4 linked regions of the Homo sapiens genome follow. The protein of the gene in region 1 interacts with the protein of each later gene in a pairwise test. Each region holds a gene or a part of one and is shown in the gene's direction. Other genes may lie near its edges.

Region 1 (7,951 bases):
GGCAGGCAGAGGTTGCAAAGGAGTTGTTTGACTCTTTCTTAGGACTTGGTCCTCAGATGCTGAGGTATGTTAGGGACAAAGGGATTGGGAATCAATTCTTGATTTTGTTCCCTGGTGCACAGCAAGGGTTGTAGAAGAAGGTCTGAGTGAGTGGAAACTGATGCCTCCTGCTCGGTTCATGATGGGGGAACTAGAAGGGACTGCATCCTACTTTGGGGAAGAGGGAGCCTGCTTGCTGCAGGCTTTGGTGGTCACCTGCTGGGTCAGGGGCCAGTCAGGGATGGCTCCCGGTGTCAAGATCATAGATCGGAGCAGAAACTGCCATCTACATCTTCAATTCACAGATGAGGAAACTGAAGCTTGGGCATGCTGATTCCCTGGACGGGGGCCACACAGCTAGTTAGTGGTAAAGTTGGGGCCATAATTTAGTTCTCTAAATATTGGTAGGCCCCTCTCTGCCTTCTCACGTTCCCCTTCATGTTAGATGTGAGAGCTCTGAACTCTCAAGATGCAAGGCTCTGGGACTCTGTATATGGTAAGTAGGATGTCCATTGCGTATGTGCTGGGCAGTTTCGGATACGAGATATTTGTTGGGAGCTCGGTGCATTGGCTCATACCTGTAATCTCAGCACTTTGGGAGGACAAGTTGGGAGGACCGCTCCCAGCAGGATTGCCCAGCAGTTTGAGACCAGCCTGGGAAACATAGGGAAACCCCTGTCTCTACAAACAGTAAAAAAAAAAAATTGCTGGGTGTGGTGGTGCATGGTTGTGGTCCCAGCTACTAGGGAGGCTGGAGTAGGAGGGCTGTTTGAGCCCCAGAGGTCAAGGCTGCAGTGAGCCATGATTGCACCACTGTACTCTAGCCTGGGTGACAGAGTTAGACCCTCTCTCTCAAAAAAAAAAAAAAAGAGATTTGTTGGGGAACAAGCAGGTAACAGCAGGTAGGTAGGTGGGCACACTGAACTAGAAAGCTTAACAATAGGAAGGATTTTTTTTCTACTAGAAAATCCTGGTCTATTTTAATTTTCCTACATCTTCCTTAGAATCCGGGTTGAGGGTTTCATATTTGTATCTCATTGATTCTGGGGTGATGTGTAACAATGTGTAATGTCTCTGTGTCTTACCTCTTTTTCTCTTTTTTTTTCTTTCTTTTTTTTTTTTTTTGAGACACAGTCTTGCTCTGTCGCCCAAACTAGAGTACAGTGGCACAATCTTGGCTCACTGCAACCTTTGCCTCCCGGGTTAAAGCTATTCTCCTGCCTCAGCCTCCTGAGTAGCTGGGATTACAGGCACCCGCCACCGTGCCCGGCTAATTTTTATATTTTTAGCAGAGACAGGGTTTCACCATCTTGGCCAGTCTGGTCTAGAACTCCTGACCTCGTGATCCATCTGCCTTGGCCTCCCAAAGTGCTGGGATTACAGGCGTGAGCCACTGCACCTGGCTTTCCTTTTTTGAATGAAGGAAAGAAAGAGCAAACCTAATTCTCAGACCCCAGAAGATTTGAAAGATCTTTGGAATTTCCCTCCTCCCCACCCCAAGAAAACCCAATGTAATCTCTGGGACTGAGGAGAGGAAAGGATCAGTTTTCTTTGGACTGTGATTTGCATGTGTCAGGGCCTTCCTGAACCCTGGGGCACAGTTGAGTCTCCATGAGGACTTAGTTTTTGGGTGGCTGGGGTTTCAGGCATGCTGGTGAGTTGAGTGCTAGTCTGAGACCAGTGTGCTCCTGGTCTCCTGGCCTGTGGCGTGACCGCAGAAGGTCACTTACAGACACAAGGGCAAGTAATTTAATGAGCATTTCCTGCCTTGCATCACTGGAAACCTGATCTCGTTCCTCCCAGCCAAGGAAGAAGGTGGCCCGTAGCAGCTTTTCCCTAAGTCTGACCTCACAGTGATGCAAGGGCCTTGAAGGCCATGGTAAAGATTTTGGCTTTTACTGCTAATGACATGTACATCCGTCTGGCTGCTGTGTATAGAATAGACATCAGGGAGACAGGCTCGAAGCAAGAAGATCAGCATTATTTCATTAATAACCCTATGAAATTGATCCTAGAATCTCTGTTTTACAGAGGTTAAGTCACTTATCCAAGGTCACATGGCCTGTCAGTGCAGGAGCCAGGATTCGAACCCAGGCTGTTGAACACCAGTGTCTGTGCTCTTAACTACTGCCCTAGGCTCATCTGTGCCCTGAGTACTCCTGTTAGCTTTTGTTTCTCTTCTATCTTGGCTTGTGGGGCGTCTTTCTTTCTTTTTTATTTGAGACGGAGTCTCGCTCTGTTGCCCAGGCTGGAGTGCAGTGGCTCGATCTCAGCTCACCACAACCTCCGCCTTCCAGGTTCAAGCGATTCTCCTGCCTCAGCCTCCCGAGTAGCTGGGATTACAGATGTGTGCCACCACTCCTGGCTAATTTTTGTATTTTTAGTAGAGACAGGGTTTCACTATGTTGGCCAGGCTGGTCTCGAATTCCTGACCTTGTGATCCGCCTGCCTCAGCCTCCCAAAGTGCTGGGATTACAAGCGTGAGCTACCGCACCCAGCCGGGCATCTTTCTTTAGTAGCAGATTGTGCAGAAAAAGACACTGCACAGGGAATCAGTATTCTTGAGTTCAGGTCCTAGCTTTGCCATTGTCTAGTATCTGAATTTGGTGAGCCACCTCTCTCAGGTTGAGTTTCTTTATCTAAAAACAAAGGCTGACAATAATAATAATCATAACAACAACAATAACAATAATAGCTAACTGCGTGAAACACAGATTATCCCATTTAATCTAAATATCAACCCATGGCCTGGCGCAGTGGCCCATGCCTGTAATCCCAGCACTTTGGGAGGCTAAGGAGGGCAGAGCACTTTGAGCTTAGGTGTTCAAGACCAGCCTGGGCAACATGGTGAAACCCCATCACTATAAAACAAACAAACAAACAAAAAACAAAAAAAAACCTTAGCTGGGCATTGGTCGCTCGCTCCTGTAATCCCAGCTACTTGGGAGGCTGAGGCTGAAGAATCGCTTGAACCCAGAAGGCGGAGGTTGCAGTGAGCCAAGATCGTGCCAGGGTACTCCAGCCTGGGTGACAGAGTGAGATCCTGTCTCAAAAATAAATGAATGAGTGAATGAATGAATGACAACCCTGTTTTTTAGATGAGGAGATTGAAGCTAAGAGATGCTGAGTAACTTGAAAGTCATGGAGCCAGAATTCGAACCCATGCCTGCTGTATAACTCAGATACTAATACCGTGGGCTCCAAAAGTATCCTGAGACTCTTAGCTCTAGAAGAAAAGTTTTGAACTTGCTGGGTCCCTTTTCATTTATATAGTGCTTTCACACAATGCACTATCAGGACTCTTAGTTGCAAATGAAAAAAACCCAGTCTGACTGGTTTTAAGCCAAAAGAGGGTTTATTGAGTCAAGTCTAGTGGCAAATGGCTTCAGGCAAGGCTGGATCCAGGAGCTCAGGTGATGTCTGTGTCTGTGTGTGGATGTCTCTCTCTCTCTCCTCTGTGTCAGCATTATTCTCAGGCAGTCCCTCCCATGTTGTGGCAAAGATGGCCAGGTGGCCCTCAGCTGACATCTGTCAGCTTAGCAGCTCTGGCAGAAACAGAGCATCCTTTCCCCCTGTGGTTTCAGCAAGCGTCCCAGGGCTGACTCTCATTGGCCCAGCTTGGGTCATGTGACTATGCCTTACTTAACCAGTCACTGTGGCACTGATTGGCCAGGTCACGGTCACATATCTGCTCCTGAAGCCTAAAAGTGGGATCAGTGCCACCACACTACATGAAACGAGTTGGGGAGGGATGGTCCCATGAAGGAAAATCAAAAAGCTGGTAGTTTAAAAAAAAAAAACAGAGAGAGGGATGCTGGACAGGCACCTTTTGGGGGGCTAATAGAAATTGTTGGCTGGGTGTAGTGGCCTATGCCTGTAATCCCAACAGGAGGCTGAGGCAGGTAGATCGCTTGAGCCCAGGAGTTTGAGACCAGCCTGGGCAATGTAGTAAGACCCTGACTCTACAAAAAACCACAAAAATTAGCTAGGCATGGTGGCGTGCACCCATGGTCCCACCTACTTGGGAGGCTGAAGTGGGAGGATTACCTAAGTTCAGGAAGTGGAGGTTGCAGTAAGCTGAGATCCTGCCACTGCACCCCAGCCTGGGTGACAGAGTGAGACCCTGTCTCAAAAAATGTTTTTTTCTTCAAGGGAAACAGTGGCATCGATTGGACACTGCTTAAATTGCTAACGGGGGTAGTTTAAGGGGGTGGTTCACAGTTGCATGTTAGGCCACACTGCATTCTTTTTTTTTTGAGACGGAGTTTTGCTCTTGTTGTCCAGGCTGGAGTACAATGGCTCTGTCTCGGCTCACTGCAACCTCTGCCTCTCGGGTTCAAGTGATTCTCCTGCCTCAGCCTCCTGAGTAGCTGTAGCTAGGACTACAGGCACATGCCACCACACCTGGCTAATTTTTGTATTTTTAGTAGAGACAGGGTTTCACCATGTTGGCCAGCTGGTCTCGAACTCCTGACCTCAGGTGATCTGCCCACCTCGGCCTCCCAGAGTGCTGGGATTATAGGCATGAGCCACCTTGCCCGGCCCACACTACATTCTTGATGATGTCACATCTTTGTGACAGTGCCTAGCCTGCTGCATGCACCTCATCTCCTAGCTCTTTCACAGCTGATGACACCGAGGCACAGAGGGATTACATAACTCAGCTAATAAGTGGCAGGCTCTGGATCTGAACTCGGGCAACTTGATGGCAGCATCAAATCACTTAACCATTGTGTTTTCATGCCACCCAAATGCGTGCCTCCCACGCACAGACCCCCACTTACCGCTCCCGTAACATACCGTTCATGGATTCTGACACATGACTCAGAATCTGTCCCGCACAGGACGCATACACGTTAGGCGAAGTCATCCTTGGTGGTGTTTCTATGGTGATGAGTCCTGGTTAAGTATAGTCAGCGTCTGAAAGTCTATTTGAAGTTGATTTCTTAGAGCTATATAAAAGTAATCTCTTGTCCAGGCACAGTGGCTCATGCCTGTAATCCCAGCACCTTGGGAGGCCAAGATAGGCAGGTCATTTGAGCTCAGGAGTTTGAGACCAGCCTAGGCAACATGGCAAAACCCCTGTCTCTACAAAAAATACAAAAATTAGCCAGGCATGGTGGCACAGGCCTGTAGTTTCAGCTACTCGGGTGGTTGAGAGAGGAGGATCGCCTGAGCCCAGGGAGGTGAAGGCTGTGGTGAGCAGCCATGATTGTGTCACTGCACTCCAGACTGGGCGACAGAGTAAGACTGTGTCTCAAAAGAAAAAAAAAAGGAATCTCTTGAAAGTTTACCACCAGCAAGAGGCACAGCTCTAAGGCACCACACTTAAGTGGCGGTATGGCCCTATTGCAGTCTACTGGACTGCCCAGCGACTTCTGATGCTCCTGGGCCAGAACCATGTCTGTAAATGCCGTGAGATTCCTCTAGCAATTCCTGCAACACATGTTGACTCCCCAGTCCTGGATCTTCCGACAGCCAAGATGTGTTAAGGAGGTGTCTTCAGATGTTTCACATCTGTACTGGGAACAGGAGTCATTAACCTCATCTTCCCACTGGGGCAGAGCTTGGGTCTCAGAGGACAGCAGAGGTGGCAGAGATCCCTGAATCTTCCAAAGGAAACTTGCTTGTTTGTGTCTTCTACATGCGGAGGATGGTAATTAGACAAGTAGGGAAGATGCTCTGGGCATGACAGCTCACAGAGCTCATGTGAGCAGTTCTCCTTTTTGTTGTTGTTTTGTAAGAGAGGGTCTCACTTTGTCGCCCAGGCTGGAATGCAGTGGTCCCATCATGGATCACTGCAGCTTCAACTTCCTGGGTTCAAGTGATTCTCCCTCTTCAGCCTCCTGAGTATCTGGGACTACAGGCACACACCACCACACTTGGCTAAGTTTTGTAATTTTTGTAGAGATGGGGTTTTGTCATGTTGCCCAGGCTGGTCTTGAACTTCTGGCCTCAAGCATTCCTCCCATCTCAGCCTCCCAAAGTGCTGAGACTATAGGTATGAGTGCCTGGTCCTCCTTTTTTTTTTTCAACCAAGAGTTTCACTCTTGTTGCCCAGGCTGGAGTGCAGTGGTGCCATCTTGGCTCACTGCAACCTCCGCCTTCTGGTTTCAAGCAATTCTTCTGCCTCAGTCTCCCGAGTAGCTGGGATTGCAGGCAGGCACCACCACGCCCAGCTAATTTTTGTATTTTTAGTAGATGGGGTTTCACCATGTTGGCCAAGCTGGTCTTGAACTCCTAACCTCGTGATCCGCCCACTCCAGCCTCCCAAAGTGCTGGGATTACAGGCATAAGCCACTGCATTCAGCCCTGGCCCTCCTTTTTTTTTGAATGGAATCAGTTCTACTTTTTTTTTTTTTTTTTTTTTTGAGACAGCGTCTTGCTCTGTCGCCCAGGCTGGAGTGCAGTGGCTCAATCTTAGCTCATTGCAACCTCTGCCTCCCGGGTTCAAGCGATTTTCCTGCCTCAGCCTCCTGAGTAGCTGGGACTACAGGCATGTGCCACCATGCCCAGCTAATTTTTGTATTTTTAGTAGAGTTTCACCATGTTGGCCAGGATGGTCTCGATCTCTTGACCTTGTGATCCGCCCGCTTTGGCCTCTCAAAGTGCTGGGATTATAGGCGTGAGCCACCACACCTGGCCTTTTTTTTTTTTTTTTGAGATAGAGTCTCGCTCTGTTGCCCAGGCTGGAATACAGTGGCACGATCTCGGCTCACTGCAACCTCTGCCTCCCGGGTTCAAGCGATTCTTCTGCCTCAGCCCCCTGAGTAGTTGGTATTACAGGCGTGTGCTACCACAGCAGGCTAATTTTTTTATTTGTAGTAGATACGGGGTTTTACCATGTTGATCAGGCTAGTGTCGAACTCCTGACCTTGTGATCTGCTCACCTCAGCCTCCCACAGTGCTGGGATTAGAGGCGTAAGCCACTGTGCCCGGCCTCCATTCTACATTTTTATAAGTAATACATATTCACACAGTTAAAAATTCATGTAGCAGCCATGCATAGTAGTTTTTATAACACAACTAAAAACTGGCAACCTGAACGTCCGTGGGAATGGATCATTACACTGAGCACCCAGAGAGAGGTGAAGCAGGAGAGTGAATAAACTGAGCTACCTGTGTTAACATCCTGCAGAAAGTTGCAGAGGGGTATGTACAATGTGGCACTTGCAATAAAGGCAAAAACATTGAAAACAACACAGTATATTGCTTAATGATACATTGTATGTAGTCCAAGTATAAAGACTTGCAAAGGAGTGATAAAGACCACAGTTGGTGCTATCATGGAAATTCAGACAGGGCCCAAGCAAGAAGTCAATGGCTGTCTCAGGAAGGTCTCGCTGAAAATAAGGGGCTGTTTACAAAGGTGTGGGCAGTTTTTTAAATTTACTTTTTTTTTTTTTTTTTGAGATGGAGTTTCGCTCTTGTTGCCCAGGCTGGAGTGCAATGGCGCGATCTTGGCTCACTGCAACCTCCGCCTCCCGGGTTCAAGCAATTCTCTTGCCTCAGCCTCCCAAGTAGCTGAGATTACAGGCATGCACCTCCACACCCGGCTAATTTTGTATTTGTAGTAGAGACGGGGTTTCTCCATGTTAGTCAGGCTGGTCTCAAACTCCTGACCTCAGGTGATCCGCCTGCCTCGCCTCCCAAAGTGCTGGGATTACAGACATGAGCCACCGCGCCTGGCTTTTGTTTGTTTGTTTGTTTGTTTTGTTTTGTTTTAAGAGAGAGGGGGGTCTAACTCCATCGTTCAGGCTGAAGTGCAGTGGCGGTATCATAGCTCACTGCAGCCTTGAACTCCTAGGCTCAAGCTATCTTCCCACCTCAGCCTCCTGAGTAGCTGGGACTACAGGCATGTGCCACTGTGCTCAGCTAATGTTCTAATCTTCTGCAGAGACAGGGTCTTGCT
Region 2 (6,102 bases), 9.1 Mb from region 1:
TAAAAAGTTAACATACAGCAGAAAGGAATCACGAGCATGGTTAAGTCTCACTATTGCTTTGTAATCTTTAAGATTTATTCCTTCAACATGGCAACACCCTGTCTCTACAGAAAAAAAAAAATCCAAAAACTAATTGGGCATGGTGGCACACGTGCCTATAGTCCCAGCTACGCCAGAGGCCGAGGCAGGAGGATCACCTGAGCCTGGGGAGGTCGAGGCTAGAGTGAGTCTAGATCGCACCACGGCACTCCAGCCTGGGTGACAGAGCGAGACCATCTCAAAACAAGAGATTGATATCTTAATGTGAGCATCTGTTACGCTCACCATGCAGTTACCAGATGAGAAGTTTTCCAGTTAGTCTTCTGACATTTATGCAAAAGCCACAAAATTACACCTGAAATTACTCTGTAAGGAGCTCTGGGATGCTGCGTGTGTTAACATTCCATTATTTGGCAGTCAGAACTCTCTTACCGTCTATTTTTATTAGGCAGGATGTTTGTGTAGGATGTTTATTAGGCAAGATGTTCTATTTTTTTCTTCTTAGCTTTGCTGAAAATATTGTACGTGATTTTTCTTCATTGTTATAGTAGTATTTTTCAATATTTTCATGATTCTAACATGTACTTTCTGAGTTTTTTCCTAGTAGCTATAATATGGTTAGTTTAATGTGGTTACACTAAAGATAAAATTACAATTTGTAGCGCGGACACAGTGAAATGCGCGACTTTTCATGGGCACTACTTGGCATTAAGGTTGACTAAAAGAAGGCTCCTCTCAGTGTGACCCCTGGGGAGTGGGGCTTGAAGTCCTGTGCCCCGGGCCTGGCTGGCCATTTCACCCTAGTGTCTGTAAATAAGAATGAACATAGAAGGATCCTCATTCATAAAAAGCAGACCAAAATGAATACCAGCAGTTATCTTTGCATAGGAAGGCAGTGGTTAATGTCCTTAACTTCACTTTTAAAATATTAACATAGCCTTTCATCCTTTAGCAATTGGCCTTCCTGGGGCTGGCTGCTGCCCCTCCCTGCAGGGTGTGCCAGGTGCAGGCCTGTCACCCCGGAGCATGGGTGGGATGGGCTGCTTTAAGGAGACAGGTGGAGTCTTACAGGTATTCGGTGAGAGGGCCCTGGCCCAGACCTGGAGCTGGACTCCCCAGGGTGTACCCTTTCCACTCTCGCTGTCACCAGGAGATTAGATGACTCCTGAGTCCTGTACCCTAGACTCCATGTAGTTGACAGTCATCCTGAAAGCCAGATGTGGCAGGAAAGTGCACACACATCGAGCACCCAGACACGTGGCAGGCAGCACAACAGCAGCAGGAGATGAGAGCACGCTGCGTGGAGCTGACTCCAGGTGGCCCAGCTGCCAGCACACTCACTTGCTGAGCGGGAGGGCGCGCGCCTCCCTCTGGAGGGAGGGAAGGCATCACAGAGAAAAGGAAGAAGAGGTTTCTCTAGGAAGGTGCTGAGAGTGGGGCGTAGGAGCGCATATAGAGGATGAGAGAGTGGCTGGGGCTTTGCAGGAAATGTGCGTGATGTTAACAGGGAACCAGAGTTTGAGGGAGGGGCCCTCCTGCAGGCAGCTCTCCCCGGTCCTGAGGAGTCACTGGGAGGCTCACCGGGGCCTGCCATGCGCCTCTTGATAACCCTGTATAACTGACTGAGCCGGCAGTCTTGGAACTGTCCAGGCTCAGCAAACAGGATTTCTTAGGTAAAAGCACTCGTACATTTGGAACTGTAATTAAAATGATGGATCTCTGCTGTTCAAAAAGAGAACTCAAAGTCCTACAGCGCGGTGCCTCCTGTTGTGTCTTCCTTTCCTTCCCTCAGACAAGCTTCCTGGAGGAGACTCCATTTATTAAGCCAAAGGTGGTCTCGCTTTGCCTTGTGTGAGGATACTTGTTAATTTTAAAAAAGTTAAATGCTGTGTCGCACCCTGCTTCCAGACCATCAGTGCAGTAGAAGAATGAATGAATGTCTTGTTGATTTCTTACACATTTGTCATATTTAAATGTAAAAAATGGATAAGGCCAGGTGCAGTGGCTCATGCCTGTAATCCCAACACTTCGGAAGGCCAAGGCAGGAAGATCGCTTGAGCCCAAGAATTCGAGACTAGTCTGGGCAACATAGCAAGACCCCATCTCTTAAAAACATATTTTTTAATTAGCTGGGCATGGTGGTGCATGCCTGTCATCCTAGCTCCTTGGGACACTGAGGTGGGAGGATTGCTTGAGTCCAGGAGGATGTGTTTGCAGTGAGCCATGTCTGCACCACTGCTCTCCAGCCTGGGCGACAGAGTGACACCTCCTTTCAGAAAAGAAAGAAAAAATAGGATTTTTCAGCCAACAAGAAATTCGTTTAAAGTTTTACAAATATGTGTAATTCATCCAATTAAAAGCAATCCTGGAGTTTTATTATGATTAAAAGAAAGTGTCGGCCGGGCCTGGTGCCTCACGCCTGTAATCCCAGCATTTTGGGAGGCTGAGGCGGGTGGATCACGAAGTCAAGAGATCGAGACTATCCTGGCCAACATGCTGAAACCCCGTGTCTACTAAAAATACAAAAATTAGCTGGGCGTGGTGGCGGGTTCCTGTAGTCCCAGCTACTCGGGAGGCTGAGGCAGGAGAATCACTTGAACCCGGAAGGCAGAGGTTGCTGTGAGCCAAGATCACATTCTTTTCTATGACATGGAGGAGTCCTTTCTTGATAATGGATGTATTTTTTAAACTATCCCAAATCCCAGAAGGATTAGTTAGCAAATGCCATTGTTGATTTCTTTGATACATTGCAAATTAATGTTTTTCTTTATCTTGCAGAAATTGATGTTCATTATTATTTGTGTAATTGTTTTGCTTGTGATCCTTGGAATTATCCTAGCAACAACATTGTCCTAGCAACCATATCCCAAGAGCCATTTATCCTTGAGACTCAGACCACATCTGCAACCAAATCAGCATCCTGTCATTTCGTGAATGAATCTCAGACGCTGTAACCCGGCATCGAGTGCTGACCTTGTAATGTATGAGTTCACGGAAGAAGCACAACCGAACGTCTTGTTCAGTGACAGCGCCGTAAGCACAGTGGGTGTGATGCGTGACCCTGAATGACACACTACAGAATGTGAGCAGTGTGAGACTTCTCTCACTGGCCTTGAAATAAGAAAATATTGAACATTTTAATATTAAAAATATTTCAGTGTTAACAAATGTGCATGAAGTTTAATTAGGAAGGAATGCTTTATGTTATGAAGGCTTTTTTTTTTTTTTTTGAGACGGAGTCTCGCTTTGTCATCCAGGCTGGAGTGCAGTGGTGCGATCTCAGCTCACTGCAACCTCGGCCTCCCGGGTTCAAGCAATTCTCCTGCCTCAGCCTCCCGAGTAGCTGGGATTACAGGCATGGGCCACCACACCCAGCTAATTTTTTGTGTTTTCTTTTTAGTAGAGACGGGGTTTTACCATGCTGGCCAGGCTGGCCTCAAACTCCTGACCTTGTGATCCACCCACCTCAGCCTCCCAAAGTGCTGGGATTACAGGCGTGAGTCACCGGGCAGGCTGTTCTGAAGCTTTTAGATCTCAGGTCTAAGGCTTCCTTTCCCTCCCTCTCCCAGCTAGTTTGTGCTAATTAAGAGACCTTTTATACTGTTTTATTGCCTGTTTGAAGAAATAATTTTTATCACGTTTTTGTAAGATATCTATAATTTTAAATGTTTATAAATTGTTTAATTTATTAGCATCTTAATGTACCCCATTTTTATATACTGAATGTGGCCTTTTGAGTGAAATAGGAAGCTTCATGGTGTTGGAGCCACCTTTGTACAGTTGTTTAAAGTTTCCCATTGTCACGGAAAACATTGGCTGCAAAGCCCCTCAAAGCCCTCAAGTGCCTTCTGTGAGTTTAAATGTGCTGGTGCCCTCCAGAAAAGCCTCGGCCTCAGCTCCGTTTCCGCCTGTTCCCTCCCCCAGGATAATGAATGGTTACTGCACTGTAAAGACCGTGGTCTCTTTTCACTAAATAGGAGATTCGAGTTTCCCAGTTTACATGAATGAAGTCTGAATTTAAGACGGTGATGAAACTGAGGTTCAGTACTCTCGGGACTCGAGGAAATTATTCCTGAGACATGGAGTAATTCTTACAAATTTAAACTATTGTACAGATCCACATACATGTTGTTAAGTACCTAATGTTTTGCTGAACTTTTAAAAGTTAATTTCCAAAATGTATAGGGATTCATGATAATTAAACCTTTTTATTGCTCATTTTTTTAGTAGAAGAATATCACTTATTTTTAGACTTGTAAAATGTATGAACTGGTGAGCGGACATCTGTTAAGAGAGTCACTAGTCAGAATGTTAAAGGAGTGCATGCAGGATGCCCCAAATGTCGTGAACTCTTGTTACTCCTGTATGTAGTAGTGTAAGCATGTGACTTTTAACACCATTTGGTTTGAAACTAATGTAGAGATGCCTGATTCCAAACAGGTGTGGAGAATATTGAATGGCTCAGAAGCCGCGTCCCTTACTTAACACAATTCCGAATCTCCCTCATCCATGATGCGTCCATTGGATCACTCGCTGGTGGTCACTGTGTGGCAGTTACTAGGGGAATTCTGCCTCTGACTGTTCTTTTTCTTTTGGTCTTTAAACACCCTGTCGTGGGATGTGCTCACTGATTTGTGGCTATGTTGAAGGTATCACTTGTCTTGAGGGTTTTCAATATTTCAGGATCATGCTGGTGGCAAAAGGACTCCACGCCTCTGTGGAATCATGTCCACAGGGGGACCTGCCTCCCGTGATGTCCCACCTTTCCTTCAAGGTCTGTCATATGAGTCCTCCCCTTTTACAACACTTATTATGGTATTTTTCAAGTTATTCTTCTTAGATTTGCAGTACCTACTGAAATTTGTGTTTTTATAGTTGAAGTTAGGAAAATGCTATTTGATTTGTATTTAGATATTTAAGTCACTTGTCCAATGATGTGTATGTCTAAGCCTCATGTACCGATTTGAAGTCAGACTTAAAAATGTATTTACAGATTCACTTGAGACTTTTTAATCGGTTCTTCAAATATTTCATGTTTACATTAAAAATTTCCAGAGAAGCATAAAAGTATTCACTTTCCTGCCTTGTCATTTCTGGAAAGATTTTGGGGAGATATTTTATTGCATATTAATTAATAAATTGTTCTACTAGGAAAATTGCTCTTGTGGCTGTTACTGTGTGTCATGATGTAATTTTTGGAGTATTTGGTGATTTGTTGATGATTAGTGTATATTACAAGCTTCTGTGGTTCACGGCTCAGTTGTCAGTACCATGTATTAAGGGACTTGCTGGAATTCTTGCTGTTTCTAACAGATACCAAGTCAGTGAATTTGGGCTCTATCTCAAAGTCACTCTGTTTGAATTCTTTTGTCAATTTGACACATTCCATTTGTTAATGGGGGGATCTCCCCGCCCCCCACTATGTTCTGAGTTATCCTCTATACTTAATCCTCATTCAGAGTTTTTCTTATTAAGTAGAATTTCTTTACTTCCTCAACTGAATTCTGATCATATTGGAAAGTGACAGTTGAAAACCACTATTGAAAAAAAAGAGAAGATAGAACTGGAGAAAACTAATTCATGGAGACAGAGCCCTAGATGTTAATTTTAATCTATTTCTCTATTTCTCCCAGAATGAATTTCCTTCCAAATCAGTCTTGACGTGTACAGTCAATAATTTATTTATACTTTTTAAAGACACTGTAATCCTATAGTATTTATTGCCTAAATGACTTTTTATGAATGTCTTCAGCAAATCTACACTCACATCCTTTCATGAGTTTAAAAAGTGGATTAAACCGAGGTGGAATTCAAACTGGAAAGGTTGCATGTCCACTAGAGTAGCAGAAAAACCTGGAAAAACTGCTGGCCTCGTGGCGAGTCCCACTCAGCCCCGGGAAGGGGTAGGGCTGGGTCCCCCACACCGTGGCCAGTGCGCAGACCCCTCCTCCCGCCCCTGCCCGCGCTCCCTGACTCCTGCGCTCTGCTAATGCAAACGCGAGTGCCCCAGGCGTGGGTCTGTGGCCGGTGCCTGCACCTGCGGAGTTGCCGAGGTTTTCCTCC
Region 3 (7,951 bases), on another chromosome or scaffold:
ATTCCGTGTCTGCTGGAACCCCTACTTCCTGGTTCGTCAATGGCCTTTTTCTCCCTGTATCCTCACATGGCAGAAAGAGGTCAAGGGAGCTCTCTGGGGTCCCTAAGACTGTGCCTTCCTGAACTAATCACCTACCAAAGGCCCTATCTCCTAATATCATCACATTGAGGGGTTAAGATTTCAACATATAAATTTTGGGAGGACAGAAAAATTCAGTCTATAGCAAATACCTTAGGCATATTCCAGAATAAGGAAGGGAAACAACATTTAGGAAACCTAATAGTGGCTCATAAGCCTTTTTCCAGAGTGCACTATTTGGGGACAAATATCTGGATAACAGAAGTTATTAATAAAGCAAATACAGTCATATCTTCATGAGGGTGGTAAACACGAGAATCCAGTCAGTGTGCTTCCTGCTGCTCTGTCAGGACTATGATCTTGCAGATGGCGCTTTGTCCCTGAGGCAGTGCAGATGATGAATGCTTGGGGCACTATGAGGATGTGACGCCACACACATGCCTTGGACACAGGGAGGGGCAGCAAGTGGGCTGTGCCAATGTTTACCAAACAAGAATCAAAAGGGCTGGTCTATTGATCACCTCTTGTGTTTCTGGTTCTTTATCTTCTTATTTTAATTTTTTTTATTCTTGATCATTATCTGGTTCTGTCAGCTTTTATAGTCCTACACTGATTGGAGGACTTTTCAAAGGTTAGCAGTGGATTTAATACTAAATTTGTAAGGAAGTAGCCTGGACTTATATTTAATACAGACTCTTTGAAAGTCTGTGTTATTAAGTGCAATAGAGGATTTAATTGGTGAAATTTTCGCATATTAGAATTTTTTTTTTTTAAGACAGGGTCTCACTCTGTTGCCCAGGCTGGAGTACAGTGGTGCCATCTCGGCTCACTGCAACCTCCACCTCTCAGGTTCAAGTGATTCTCCCACCTCAGCCTGCCGAGTAGCTGGGATTACAGGCACACACCACCACACCCAGCTAATTTTTATATTTTTTGGTCAGGACAGGGTTGGGACGGGGTTTCACCATGTTGGCCAGGCTGGTCTCGAACGCCTGACCTTAAGTGATCGGCTCACCTCGGCCTCCCAAAGTGCTGGGATTACAGGCATGAGCCACCAAGCCTAGCCAACAGTTTAGAATTTCTCATTTAATTATTCTGCTTTTACATTTTTCAGAAATTTCTCGCAGTCTTCCAAAATGTAAAAACAAAGAGGTTTTCTAAGACATAGTGAAAAATACATTTCTGTGATATCTTTTAAGTTTATTTCATAATGCTTTACTATGCACCCTCTTTGAAAGGGACAAATGTGGATTCCAATTATGGAAAAGTCGCCTGGTTATTGCTTTCTAAAGGACTGAAAAAGCTAATGGCACAAGAGAGAAGACAATACCCTAAAATTATTAAGGCAGGCCCAAAGAGCTCTTGTTGACTATACCTTTAGCGAATTCTTCAACATGCAACCACTCTTTCTCAACTTGCGTTCTTTATTTAGGAAAACTAGGAATCCAACCAAAAAGTACAAAAGCCTAGAAATAAGTGAAATCTCTATGTATTTCATCCAAAAGACCACTGGGATGGCTAGATAGTAGAAAGGAGAGCTTTATTGATGATATCAGTTTGCAAACTGGGAAGAGACAGCCTCCAGCATGTGTGGAAGGTGCCCTCTCTTCCAAGAGAGGAAGGGCAGGTTGGGTTTTATGCCTCACAGGGCCTGTATCACACAGTAGAGTCATACATATTCAGTAGGTTTTGGGGGAAAGCTATCCATATTTATGAGGGGAGCTGAGCACATGCAGAATGAGTAAACATATATGTAACATACATCCCATGTTTACTTCGGGGCAGGGTTTTAGTGTTAGAATGAGGTGAAATTTGGCTCTTCATGTCAAAAGGTGAACTGTAGGACATAAACACAGTTTGTGCACCGCATCTATAAGCTGCTAAAACTGGCTTAAGGTCTGCAATTGCTTACCAGGAAAGAATGTGTGTAAGGTCAGTCTTCTGTCTAGTCAGAGTTATAGTGGTCTGGTTAGTAAATCAGGGTAAGGAGGGGGTCTCATAGCGCCTATTGTTAGGGAATTTCAATCATTAGGAATTTAGTAATTTGCCCTCCAGCCAGGCCTTGAACCCTGGACCCATCTTAGTTGATATAGGAGTGTCTATTTTGGCCCCACAGATCACATATATTCATCAGAATAGTCCGAATCTTATTTTCCTTCTTAACTTGCAATGAGTGAATATACAACGAAGTAGATGTTCATGTTCCGGCTAATTTTAGTTCATCAGCATTTTCTGGAAGCAACCAAAAGTCATATGTATTTAGACAGCTGTGATTTCTGCCAATTCAGCTTGCTTCGGGAACTGAGGGGATTCAATCTTACTTTATGCCCAAATCTGTTTGCTTGTGGCTGTTAGCATTAATCTTTTAACCTTTGATTTGCATTCATCTGAAAAGCTAGAGATGATTGTCCTTAATAATTAGTGCCATTCTTCTGTATTTTTGCTTGGATTACCCATGAAAACTAAATGAGACTTTAATTTACTGAGTAAAGCTCTGTCATTATTTTATCAGTTCTAAAGGGCAAGCGTGATTTATTATACAAATAAAACTAAGGAATGGTTATGTGACTTGTCCTTAAATTCCTGCAGCCAAGTGGATTTGGAATTCCTTTTCTAATCTGAGATTTATCTTCGCAGGAACCACATTGACTTGACACGCCTCACAACACAAAGGATAAATTCCATGCCCCTTTGGCTGGAATATGCTAGTAGATCTATTTTCAGAAGTTAATCTCAGATTTGAGATATTTTAATTCTTCTTCTTATTTATTCCCTGGGATGAGTCCAGTGCTCTGCATACATTCTTAATGCTTTAGGTGAAAGAAGGATCAGGCCAAGAGAAACATTCCTCCCCATGGAACAAGGGGTGGGAAGGGATATAAGAACTCAATGTAGAGTCAGAAGATCTCAATGCTGGAATCATCCACGTTCATTTTTAGAGAAGGAAATTAGGTTCAGAATGAGAAGTGAAGGTGAAGTCTACCTGTTGACCTTGTCTTTGGTAACTAACAAATGATTGGACCCAATGGGAACATTGCTATTTTATGCATTGGATACTTTGAAGATGAAAACTTCATTATAAACCAATGATTATTTAAGAGTTGATATTTATAAGTCACATGTTCATAACAGCATTCCATTTGAATTGAACTGTCTATTTAAGATAAATCCAGCTGTGATAGAAGGCATGGTCTCCATTTTGAACCGGGTTTCTGACCATATGAAACTCAAAGAAGTCTAAAAGTTTCTCTGATGTCTATCTACCATTTGCAGAAATGAAGATCAGATATTATATATTTACAAACTCCAGTGGTAAATATATGTGGATAGACTGTATGTACAGTTAGACATGATTTAAGTTTTTGCTTCTTCCTAGATAGCTGTTTCTATTATGCTACTCTTTATAGCAATAAGAACTTAGGAATCCCCCAACATGAACCAAGCACTGTGCTGGTAAAGAACAACAACAAAAACAGTAGAAGACACTGTGTCTGCCCTCCAGGACCTGACAGTTGAGGTAGAGAAAGAAAATGTATTTGCTTGAAAGTAAGAGGATAGTAGGAAATTAGCATATAGTCAGAATCTATGGGGAAGGATCATGGATGATATGTTTACAGCTTAAAGGAAGAGAGCTACTGATGGACACTAGAAGTCAGGAAAGGCTTCATAGCAGTTGTAGGACTGTGGTGGAATCTTGAAGTGTGTGTAGGATATGAACCAGAAGAGAAAAGGGATGGATTCTAAGCACAGAGAACAAGTATGACATAGTAACACTGATGACAAGTGTGAAGGGATAAAAATACATATGGTAAATTCAAGAGATATTTAATAAAGGAGTCTTGTCAGAGTTGAAGATTCATTTTGGCAAGTGGTGGAAGATGAGGCCTCATAAATGGATGATGAAAGGTCTTTGCACTGAACTAGAGTTTAAACTTAATTTCATATACAATAGAGAGCTACTGAGGCTATAATCAAAAATCTGGCATAAATAGAGTATAATCTCGTCTGTGGTATGCTATCCTGTCTGTGATATGAAACATATGTTAAGTCCTTGTGAGTTCAGCTTTTTGTCCCAGCTAATTATCATCATTATTAAGGATTATCTTTCAAAATATCTTATAAAGTGAGGCACTGCAAAGAGAGAACGAAAAGAAACTAGAAAGCTCTGGGGTTTCAAGAAAGTTGCCAAAAGTCTGCTTATCTTCATATATCACCTGACACTCAAACTTACATTTTGGTAACAATCCTCTGAACTGTTTATTTCCAATGTTTTTACATTTACTGTGGGGGGAAAATGCCCCCAAACGTCTTGCTAACCCATTTAGCTTGGGGCCAATACTAGATTCATCCCATCCTCCCAAAACACTAACTGGAAAGTCAAGGACAAGGTGGCAGGCAGCTGATAGTCTATCACTTATTATTCCTCTTATCACTTGCAGGATCTTGAATGTGTTAGACTGTTCTAATTCTCTGATCCCAAGAAAACTTGGAGGTAACTCTTTCAAGAGAAAACAATAAGGTTCTGACTGTTGAGCTAAAAACTAAAGACGCTGCTTGCTGTTGGGTTCTTTGACTCAGGGGAGAGTCCCAGGAGAAAGTCACCATGCTGATATGGTCTGTCCCACAGGTGGCTCCAGTGATTAAAGCCAGAATGATGGAGTATGGAACCACAATGGTCAGCTACCAACCCTTGGGAGACAAGGTCAATTTCTTCCGCATGGTCATCTCAAACCCAGCGGCAACTCACCAAGACATTGACTTCCTGATTGAAGAAATAGAACGCCTTGGACAAGATTTATAATAACCTTGCTCACCAAGCTGTTCCACTTCTCTAGGTAGACAATTAAGTTGTCACAAACTGTGTGAATGTATTTGTAGTTTGTTCCAAAGTAAATCTATTTCTATATTGTGGTGTCAAAGTAGAGTTTAAAAATTAAACAAAAAAGACATTGCTCCTTTTAAAAGTCCTTTCTTAAGTTTAGAATACCTCTCTAAGAATTCGTGACAAAAGGCTATGTTCTAATCAATAAGGAAAAGCTTAAAATTGTTATAAATACTTCCCTTACTTTTAATATAGTGTGCAAAGCAAACTTTATTTTCACTTCAGACTAGTAGGACTGAATAGTGCCAAATTGCCCCTGAATCATAAAAGGTTCTTTGGGGTGCAGTAAAAAGGACAAAGTAAATATAAAATATATGTTGACAATAAAAACTCTTGCCTTTTTCATAGTATTAGAAAAAAATTTCTAATTTACCTATAGCAACATTTCAAATGTATTTAAATACATATAATTTTACAAAAGGAAAATATATATATTAAAAAAGATATCCTATTTTGTAACATATAGATTTTTATTTTATATAGGTTATACAAACTGCGGGGGCAGATATAAAATCTAAGCCAGATTTTTTTTTCCTTTCTCTTAATGGAGGCACAATAAAACACTTAGCAAAGTTATTTTGAAACATTGACCCACGAAATTCTTAAAAGGTATTATTGCTTCTTTCTATACATGTTATGGCTTATCACATCTCTAAAGTTAGTATTTCAAGACAAACACAAAAGAATACTGCGAGTTCTTTAAAATAATTGATCCCATTGGCAGTAAGATTCTCTTCCCCTTTAAGTTTTCCACCCATTTTACTCTTAGCGGACTCACTCTGCAAGCGTGACAAACCAGGCTTCATCTCAGATTAAATTAGGGTAATTGTCTCTATTCTGCTTTCCAGTTCGGCCTGTTTTGAACAGAAGGTTGATGCTAGTTCTTGAGGCATCTTCCAAATAGTATTCTTTTATTAGGTCATTTGAATTAATTAGAGAAAGTAAAAATAAAACCTTATCAGCCTGAGCAAAGAGGAATGAAGCACACTCCCAGAATGTGGTGAGCCCAGAAAATTAAAGTTGGCCTTGGGAGAAGAGATCTCTGTGGGACAATAATGACATCATCCTGGCGCCATATTGCCACTGTCCAGGAAAGAGAAATTTACCTCCAGGCCAGTTGCGCATTTCCATCCCCTCCCCATTCCTCCCCACAAAGTCTCTCCCACTAGACTCCCTACCACTGGGACCCAAAATAGTTACTTTATATTCCATGGGTGGTTGTTTTTCTTCCATGAAATGAGCCTCTCACCCTAGATTTTGAGGCATTATCTTAAGATTTTCCTTTATCCATCTCCCATCGAGATCCAAAGTGACCAGAATATGCAGAAATAATAAGATCCTTAGAATTCAAAATAGTATTTTTAAAACATCCTTCTTTCCCTGTGAACCTGATAGAAAAACATGAGCTAACAAAAGCTTCCATAGATATTTATGGGGTCACACATCGTCAGATTCCAAGTGCTGATTGGAGAACAATAGATTGATATGCAGACTGCAAATGCAAATTTAGGAACATTCTCCATTTCTGAATGGACCAGGTAGTTCAGTACTCAGACTGCAGGTATACAAGGGAAGAGAGAAGGCCCTGCCCTTCAACGGGTAGAAATGCCCTACAATATAACATAGAGAAATGCCCTATAATATAACCACAGGATCCAGCCATCTGAAATTTTCATAAGCTTCCCCCTACATTATTTCTCCTAGGCTATATGCAAAAACAGTGATAACTTGATATGAACATGGCTTTGGGCCCTTTCTGTCTAGAAAAACAAATGGGTTCACTATGACAATCAGAAATAAACTCTTTCATCTGTCCCGCAGAATTTCATGAAGGAGTAACCTTCCATTCTAGGCTTTGTCTAATGGCCAAGCATTAGACAAAGCATTAGAAAGCAGTTCCTTTCTCAAAACTGCCTGCTGAGAATAAGCACATAGCTGCCCGACTATCCGGAGCCTCAGGCCCAAAGGTTCCACTTCAGAGACAGAGATGCTAATTGATCCAACCTGCTGTCCTTCGTGGAGAAGACAGTGGGGCCCAGTGCCCTGGTGAACCAACCCTGCTGTACTCCAGGATGCTTTATCTTTTGAGTTACAGATCCTAGATTATAAACTGCTGCTTTTTAGGTTAATGAGATGGTAAAATTTTAAAGGACAATTTGTGCCTATATATGAAATTCCAGCAAAACAATTCTAGCAACAACAATAGCTCTTCTTCCCCGCTCCCCTACCCCTTCCCAGTACTCCTTCAAATTGGCTGAGAGCCTTGCTCAGGCCTGTGCAGGGAAATCCTTACCAACTGTAGCCCAAAGAAGGAAGCAAATAAAAGCCTAGTAGGTCCCAGTAGTTTAATAAATCATCTTGAAAGGAGATGTGGAATCAGGTCAGAAGAGAGTAAGGGAGGAAGGGAGGGAGGGAGGGAGGGAGGGAAGGAGGGAGGGAGGAAGGAAATGAAGGGAGGGAGGGAGGGAGGAAAGAAGGGAGATTATTTTTAATATTAGCCCAAATTCCCAGTGCCATGGTCTTTATGTGTGCCCATTCTTTACAAATCTTAGAAAAGTTTGGTTTTAGCTTTAATCAGAACTGACATGGCCATTTTCATTTATACAGCAATATTGTGTTTATCATTTAAAATACTTGAACAAACAAGTGTGATATGTCTTTATCTGAGACCTATACATGGTATGGACTTCATATACTGCCACAGGATGTGAGGAAAGAAAAGGAAATCAATTCTGACTGTGTTGCCTTTATTATCTGGATAATACTGTCTTGTCACCTCAGATTGGGGTTGTGCACTTTAGATCTGAACTGTACAGTGTTGCAAATCAACATGTGTTTCTGTAAAAGCTTGTACAATATATTATTGATATGTCTTTTTCTGTGTGGTAGCTGTATTGAACTTTGATATTATGAAAACTACATTTGCATCTGTTCCTGTTCTCTCTCTCTCTCTCTTTCCTAACTATATGCCCTCCACATCGGCTCTAATAG
Region 4 (8,017 bases), on another chromosome or scaffold:
ACTGTACTCCAGCCTGGGTGACAGAGCAAGGGTCTGTCTCAAAAAAAAGAAAGAAAAAGAAAAAAAAATCACTAAGGAAAGATCACTACTTGCCTGGCCCATGCTAATCAGTTTATAGGCATTAATTTGTTACATTTTCACAATGATTCTTCCTAGGAGTAGATTATTAGGATCCTCTTTTTACAGACGAGAGTAAGGAGATGTTCAGAGAAATCACATAGCTTGCTCAGGGTCACACGGACACAGGGTGACCAGGCAAGCCATCAAACCAAAGGGGCACTTTTGAGAAAGAAAGTTGCTGCTGCTGGTAAGGACATCAGGCCTGGCCCAGGTAAACTGGGCAGTATGCCACTTTGCATGGACAGCACGTGCCTGAGCCAGGATTCCAGGCCTGTTTGTTCCTTCTCCAAGCTCAGGCTCTAGAAGGGGCAGAGAGGAGATACTCTGGATTAGCACTCTGGGGGTGGAGACCCTGGGTCTGAGCCGGGGAACTCCACCTACTCCTAAGACCTCGATCAAGTCTCAACATCTCCCTGGGCCTTAGTTTCCAATTCTGTTAAAGCGGAGTGGTGGAAGCAGCACAGGTTAAAGGTCAGAGCCACAGCCCTAACCCTTCATGTACTGAGATCCAGAGATGAACAGTGATTGGTTCAAGATCACACAGCAAAGTCTGGGCTGAATGAGGATTTGACTCCAGGTGTCCAGATTCTTCAGGAGTGTGGGGATGATGAAATGAACGGTGGCATGGTGCCTGGCACACGGTTACCACCCAACATCTGGCACTTCAGGGCTGCACTCCTTATTCTCTTCCTAGAAGCCCCAGCCCCTGTTCCTCTCCTTCTCCTCCTCCCTCAACTGGGAGGTGGAAAATAAATGGGCTCTGGCATCTCACAGATCTGAGTTTGAATCCTGCCCCTGCCTGTTACTGCGTGACCTTAGCCAATGCTGTCTAATAGAACTCTCTGGCATGATGAAAATGTCCCATATCTGCACTAATTTTTTTTTTTTTTTAAATGGAGTCTCGCTCTGTCGCCCAGGCTGCAGTGCAGTGGTGTGATCTCGGCTCACTGCAAGCTCCACCTCCCGGGTTCACGCCATTCTCCTGCCTCAGCCTCCAGAGTAGCTGGGACCACAGGCGCCTGCCACCACACCCAGCTAATTTTTTTGTATTTTTAGTAGAGATGGGGTTTCACCGTGTTAGCCAGGATGGTCTCGATCTCCTCACCTCACGATCCGCCCGCCTCGGCCTCCCAAAGTGCTGGGATTACAGGTGTGAGCCACCGTGCCCAGCCACAATTTTTTTTTTTTTTTTTGAGACAGAGTCTCACTCTGTCACCGAGGCTGCAGTGCAACCTCCGCCACATGGGCTCAAGCCATCCTTGAGCCTCAGCCCCCTAAGTAACTGGGACTACAGGCTTGCGCCACCATGCCTGGATAATTTTTGTATTTTTAGTAGAGATGGGTTTTCGCCATGTTGGCCAGGCTGGTCTCGAACTCCTGACCTCAAATGATCTGCCTGCCTTGGCCTACCAAGGTGCTGGTTTTACAGGCATGAACCACCACACCCAGCCTGTACTGTCTAATATGAGAGTCCCCAGCCACATGTGGCTGTTGAGCACCTAAAATGTGGCCACTGTGAGTGAAGAATGGACTTTTATTTTAATTAGTGCAAAGTGAGGTAGCCACATGTGGCTGTGGCTACCCCACTGGACATCCCAGATTTAAAAAATTTACTTAGGCTGGGCGCGGTGGCTGACACCTATAATCCCAGCACTTTGGGAGGCTGAGGTGGGCAGAACACTTGACGTCAGGAGTTTGAGGCCAGCCTGGCCAACATGGCGAAACCCCATCTCTACTAAAAATACAAAAATTAGCCAGGCGCAGTGGCGCACACCTGTAATCCCAGCTACTTGGGAAGCTGAGGCAGGAGAATCGCTTGAACCCAGGAGGTGGAGTTCCAGTGAGCGGAGATCACGCCACTGCTTTTTGCACTCCAGCCTGGGCAACAGAGCGAAACTGTTTCTTTCTTTTCTTTTTTCTTTTTTTTTTTTTTGAGATGGAGTCTGGCTCTGTTGCCTGGGCTGGAGTGCAGTGGTATGATCTCCACTCACTGCAAACTCCACCACCCGGGTTCGAGTGATTCTCCTGCCTCAGCCTCCTCAGTAGCTAGGATTACAGGTGTGTGCCACTATGCCTGGCTAATTAAGATTGTTTCAAAGAAAAAAAATTTACTTAACTTTTCTAAGCCCTAGTTTTGTTATCTCAGAGATGGGACTTGCAGCACCTACTGTGAGGGCTGTTCCTTACTATGAGAGTCCATCAGTGCCTCAATAGCATAGGGCCTATAGTGGGGTGCTCAGGAAAAGGTGGTGTCAGCATTTGCTCCGTTGTCTTGTTTCCCCGTCTGACCCCTTCCTTGTCCTCCCATCTCCCGCACTGTGTCTGGGAGTTGAGAGCTCCTGGCTCCTGTCACCCAGGGGCACAGTCGGGCCATGGGAGGGCCTCACCCCTTCGAAGACCCGCGTGATGGTCTTGGGCCTTCTCAGAAACTGCACGGCTTCGCTGTTGGCCAGCTCCTGGAGGCTTTTGGGGATGTGCATGGCAGCTGTTTTCCTTTGGGGCCACTGGGAGGTGGGAGCCAGGGTGCTGGGCGCTGCCTGCTGGGCACTGCCGTCCGGGGGCTTCAGGCCAGCCCTGGGCTTGGCTGCTGTGGGATGACACAGATGGGGGATGCCAGTCAGGGGCACGGGGTGGAAGGGCTGTTGGGGGCCCCAGGATTGGGGGACATGGGGTGGGGATGGGGGGGGTCCCCGGAATGGAGTTGTGTGGGGTGAGGGGACTGCTGAGCCTCTTAGGAGTCAGGGTGTGGGGTGAATGGGCTGTCAGGGGCCCCAGAAGTCGGGGACGTAGGATGGGGGTGCAGGTGGGTCCCAGGGAATGAGGTTGTGTGTGCTGAGGGGGCTTCTGTGGGCCCCAGGAGTGGGGGGCATAGGATGGGGGTGCTGGGGGTCCCAGGAATGGGGTTGTGTGGTGAGGGGGCTACTAGGGGTCCCAGAAGTGGGAGGCATAGGATGGGGGTTCTGGGGGGTCCCAGGAAAGGTGTTGTGTGGAGAGGGCTGCTAGGGGTCCCTGAAGTGGGGGACATAGGATGCGGGTGCTGGGGGTTCCCAGGAATGGGGTTGTGTGTGGTGAGGGAGCTTTCTGGGGGTCCCAGGAGAGGGGGGCATAGGATGGGGATACTAGGGGTCCCAGGCAAGGTGTCGTGTGGGGAGGGCTGCCAGGGGTCACAGAGGTGGAGGTGCAGGATGAGAGAGTCGCTAAGGGTCCCCTGGGTTGAGGTGTGGGTTAAGGGGGTCTATGGAGGATTCCAGAGAGGTGAGGGCCTGGGGTGAGGGTGATTCTGGGGGTCCCAGGAGTGGGGGACATAAGTGAAGGGGCTGCTTCAGGTTCCAGAAGTCAGGAATGTGGGCTGAGGGGGTTGTTGGGCGAGAGGGCTGTCAGGGATCCCAGAGGTGGAGTGCAGGGGAGGGCTGGGATATTTGGGGACCACGTCTTGTGACCCAGGAGCTGAAGGGCCTGCAGAGGGACTGGGTCCTTCTGTGAGAGGACACAGGTGGGACTTTCTGGGGACTAGGGGGTGCGGCCATTGAGATCAGAGCCCCTGGGAGGTCTGAAACCGAATAATCCCTTTCAGGTTTGGGGGTGACAGCACCCTTCGTGGAGAACCCAGGTATCTCAGGGCATATTTCAGGCTGTCCTTGTCACTTGGGGCCATTTCCCAGAATAAGGGCCTCCCTTTCGAATTCAGCTCCATTTTCACGGAAGTGCACCTCCTCAAGCTGGGAGTCGGGACCTCGGATTTGTGGGGAACCTCAGAATGAGGCCACGCCCCGGCACTGGGCTACCTTCTTAGAATCGCGGTCTCCCCTTTAAGGACCTGGAATGGCAGTGCTGAGGTTTGGGGGTGACGGCACCTGAGAAGGGGCCGCCCCTTCTCTGGAGGGCCAATCTGCGTCACCTGAGGGCCCGCCCTTCCTTTCGCCACCCCCACCCCTCCTGGTCCCTAGCGCCACCTCAGCCTTCTTTTGGTTCCGCTTTTTCCCGCCTTTTCGCTCCTCCACAGCTGATTGGCTGCGCCCAAGTCCCGCCCCCTCCCTCTTTCCGCCTACTCAGGAGCTGACACGAGCCGGGGCGTGGCCTCGGCGAACGTTGGACTGCGCGCCGTTGGCGGACTGCGCGCGGGAGCCCTACCCCGCCCCATCCCTCTAGGGAGTCTCGCGTCCACACCGCCCCTTCCCTTTGTAGCAAGCTGACAAGGAGACACTCCTGCGGCGCATGCGTCGCGCCCAAACGAGGCCGGCGGTGGAGAAAGGCAGGCAACGCATGCGTAGTTGATGTAGGGAGTCGGCGGTGAGAAATGGACAGCCCGCATTGACCGAAGCTTTGCGCATGCGTTTTACTGCTGGGTGAAGCCGAACCTCGGGAGCCCAGGACGCCCTCCTGCACATGCGCAGGAGGCTCAATGACAGTCGAGCTTTGGCTAAGGTGAGGGAGAAATCGGGGGATTGCATGGCCAGGGAGGGCGGCCCTGCACCCCCTAGGTAACCTTTACGAGCATTTCCTGCTCTCCTAAGATCTACCTCGCTGTCTAGACCCCAAAGAAACGTTGTACCACTACAGGGTCTCTGGGCCTGAAAAACGCCCCAGAACCTAAGACCTCTGACCCCTGTCTGGGACCCAGGCCAACTGAGCAGTGTGGGAAGGGGACAGGCAACAGGGGCTTTGAGGCGAGCGGATGGGCTCTGCGCCCTGCCTGGGGTAGAGACGGCTTCTGGAGGGTGGGACGTGGAGGTGGAGAGGGCGCTTTTCCTCTAGATGGCCTTTGACCCCTGCCCATTTTCCTCTGTTTAGGCTCCGGGGAAAGGGTCTAGCCATGCTGCATGTGACCCGGGGGGTCTGGGGGTCCAGGGTCCGAGTATGGCCACTGTTGCCCGCGCTCCTCGGGCCCCCCCGGGCCCTCTCATCGCTGGCAGCCAAAATGGGGGAGTATCGCAAGATGTGGAACCCCAGGGAGCCCCGCGACTGGGCCCAGCAGTACCGCGAGCGCTTCATTCCCTTCTCCAAGGAGCAGCTGCTCCGCCTCCTAATACAGGTACCGCCTGTCCCAGGCCCAAGAGCCTGGGGACTACGGCTCCCAGCAGGCTTCGCGGCGGCAGGGCCCTAGTTGCTGCAGAGAGCTGCCCTGGCGCCTCCTGGGAGTTGTAGTTCCCGGGTCCCTTCGTGTTTCCCTAGTGGGCGGGAGATGAGCTGGAATGCAGGAGCCAGGTCTCCGAGATGCAGACGCAGCATCCATTCCCAACTCTGGCTTGTTCTGAGGGCTTGAACAGGCACTCTCTGGGGCATGGTTTTTCCCTCTTTAAGATGGGTATAGTAATCATCCTCATCATTACTATTTCTACTACCTGATAATAATTGTACCTATAAAGTCACAACGCTGTAATCATAATTATTATCACACAATTTGAGCTCTGACTCCATGGCACTGTGCCAGACATTTTTCATGTATTGTTGAATCATCAGTAAGAGAGATACCACCATCATCCCCATTTTACAGATGAGATAATGGAAGCATAGGGAAGGAAAGTGACTTACCCAAGGCCACAACATAGTGGCTTAGATTTGAACCAAAGTGGTCTGACTCCAGAGCTGGCCCAGGACTAGGGTTAGGCAAGTAGGGCACTCGCTTGACCCTAAGAGTGAGTGCCCCGTTAAATTTTGCACCCTTGGGTGCCATATTCACCTCATCCTAGTCTTGGTCTCACTCTAGAACCTGAGGTCTTATTGCCACCATCATCATCATTGTCATTATTGAGGATTTTGAGGATTATTATTCATTTATTTTTCTTTATTTATTTTTGTGAGACAGGGTCTCACTCTGTTGCCCAGACTGGAGTGCAGTGGCACAATCTCAGCTCACTGCAACCTCTGCCTCCTAGACTCAAGTGATCCTCCTTCCTCAGCCCCCGAGAGGCTGGGACTCTTGCCTGGCTAATTTTTGTATTTTTAGTAGAGACAGGGTATTGCCATGTTGGCCAGGCTGGTCTCGAACTCCTGGCCTCAAGTGATCTGCCCATCTTGGCTTCCCAAAGTGCTGAGATTACAGGTATGAGCCACCACACCTCACCATCATTCATTAATTTAACATTTATTTACTGAACACCTACTGTATGTACTCAATTCTGTGCTGGACTTGATACACACACAAATACACACACACAAATACACACAAGTATATGCATACAAGTACACACACAAATACACAAATATGTGTACACAAATACACAAATATACACATACAAATGCACACACACAAATACACGCACACACAAATATATGCACACAAAAGTACACAAATATACACACATAAATATACAAATATATGCACATATATGTAAACACATGTGTATATAGGACATGTGTAATCTCATCAAATTCTCACCGTAGCCCTCCAAGAAAGAGCGTGTAATCCTCTGTTGCCAGTGAGGAAACTGAGGCTCAGAGAAGTGAAGACAATTACCCAGGACATTGACATAGGAAACATAAAGAAGTGGTTCAAGGCCGGGCGCGGTGGCTCACGCCTGTAATCCCAGCACTTTGGGAGGCCGAGGCGGGCAGATCACGAGGTCAGGAGATTGAGACCATCCTGGCTAACACGATGAAACCGTCTCTACTAAAAATACAAAAAATTAGCCGGGCGAGGTGGCAGGCTCCTGTAGTCCCAGCTACTTGGGAGGTGAGGCAGGAGAATGGTGTGAACCCGGGAAGCGGAGCTTGCAGTGAGCCGAGATCGTGCCACTGCACTCCAGTCTGGGCAACAGAGCAAGACTCCATCTCAAAAAAAAAAAAAGAAGAAGAAGTGGTTCAAGGCCAGGCATGGTGGCTCACGCCAGTAATCCCAGCACTTTGGGAAGTCGATGCAGGTGGATCACCTGAGGTCATGAGTTTGAGACCAGCCTGGCCAACATGGTGAAACCCCGTCTCTATTAAAAGTACAAAAATTAGCTAGGCGTGGTGGCAGGCGCCTATAATCCCAGTTACTTAGAAGGCTGAGGCAGAATTGCTTGAACCGTGGAGGAAGAGGTCGCAGTGAGCTGAGATCATGGCCGCTGCACTCCAGCCTTGGCAACAGAGTGAGACTCCTTCTCAAAAAAAAAAAAAAAGGAAATGGTTCAATGTGTACCCTGGAGTCAGACAGGCCTAGATAGCAGTCATTTCCCACAGACACTGCAGCCCTTACCAAATGACTTTTCCAGAGCCTCAGTTTCTCCCACTGACAAATGGGAGTTATAATTCCATCAACCTTGGGGGTATGGTGGCTCAGCCTCCCAGCACTTTGGGAGGCTGAGGTGGGAGGATTGCTGGAGCACAGGAGTTCAGACCAGCCTGGGCAATATAGTGAGACTCCACCTTTACAAAAAATTGAAAAAAATTCGCCAGGCATGGTGGTGGGCACCTGTAGTCTTAGCTACTCAGGAGGCTGAGGTGGGAGGATCGCTTCATCCCAGGAGGTTGAAGATGCAGTGAGCTGAGATTGCACAACTGAGCTCCAGCCTGGGTGACAGAACGAGACTCTGTCTCAACATAATAATAATAATAATTCCATCTACTTCTGGAGGATGATATTACACTGTCAAACCGTTCCTGGAATTGTGTGTGTGTGTATTGGCTAGGAAATGTCAAAGCAAAAACTTGAACCTCCAGCTTTTTAAGCCCAGTATAGTTTTTCACTATATTTGGCTGCCTCAGTTTCAGTAAAATTGGTCAGCCCCCACCCAACCAAAACAAAACTTTTTTTTTTTTTTTTTTTGAGACAGAGTCTTGATGTTGTCTAGTCTGGAGGGCAGTGGCACGATCTCGACTCACTGCAGCCTCCGCCTCCCTGGTTCAAGCAATTCTCCAGCTTCAGCCTCCTGAGTAGCTGGGACTACAGGTGCATGCCATCACGCCCGGCTAATTT

The links.
Region 2: the proteins of TMEM120B (region 1) and STX2 interact in binary tests that used the Homo sapiens proteins (3 or more experiments, as listed by UniProt).
Region 3: the proteins of TMEM120B (region 1) and GAD2 interact in binary tests that used the Homo sapiens proteins (3 or more experiments, as listed by UniProt).
Region 4: the proteins of TMEM120B (region 1) and TMEM143 interact in binary tests that used the Homo sapiens proteins (3 or more experiments, as listed by UniProt).

Annotation. Positions count from the first base shown.
Region 1 is NC_000012.12:121,715,417-121,723,367, forward strand, and holds part of TMEM120B (transmembrane protein 120B), read left to right. Parts: intron 1-7,951. UniProt on the Homo sapiens protein: Necessary for efficient adipogenesis. Does not show ion channel activity.
Region 2 is NC_000012.12:130,788,693-130,794,794, reverse strand, and holds the end of STX2 (syntaxin-2), read left to right. Parts: intron 1-2,817; coding exon of another isoform or gene 2,818-2,926; 3' UTR 2,927-5,195; downstream 5,196-6,102.
Region 3 is NC_000010.11:26,296,083-26,304,033, forward strand, and holds part of GAD2 (glutamate decarboxylase 2), read left to right. Parts: intron 1-4,705; coding exon 4,706-4,879; 3' UTR 4,880-7,951. UniProt on the Homo sapiens protein: Catalyzes the production of GABA.
Region 4 is NC_000019.10:48,360,426-48,368,442, reverse strand, and holds the start of TMEM143 (transmembrane protein 143), read left to right. Parts: upstream 1-4,502; 5' UTR 4,503-4,522; coding exon 4,523-4,545; intron 4,546-4,911; coding exon 4,912-5,152; intron 5,153-8,017. Other genes in the region: SYNGR4 (synaptogyrin-4), read right to left, coding at 2,508-2,600.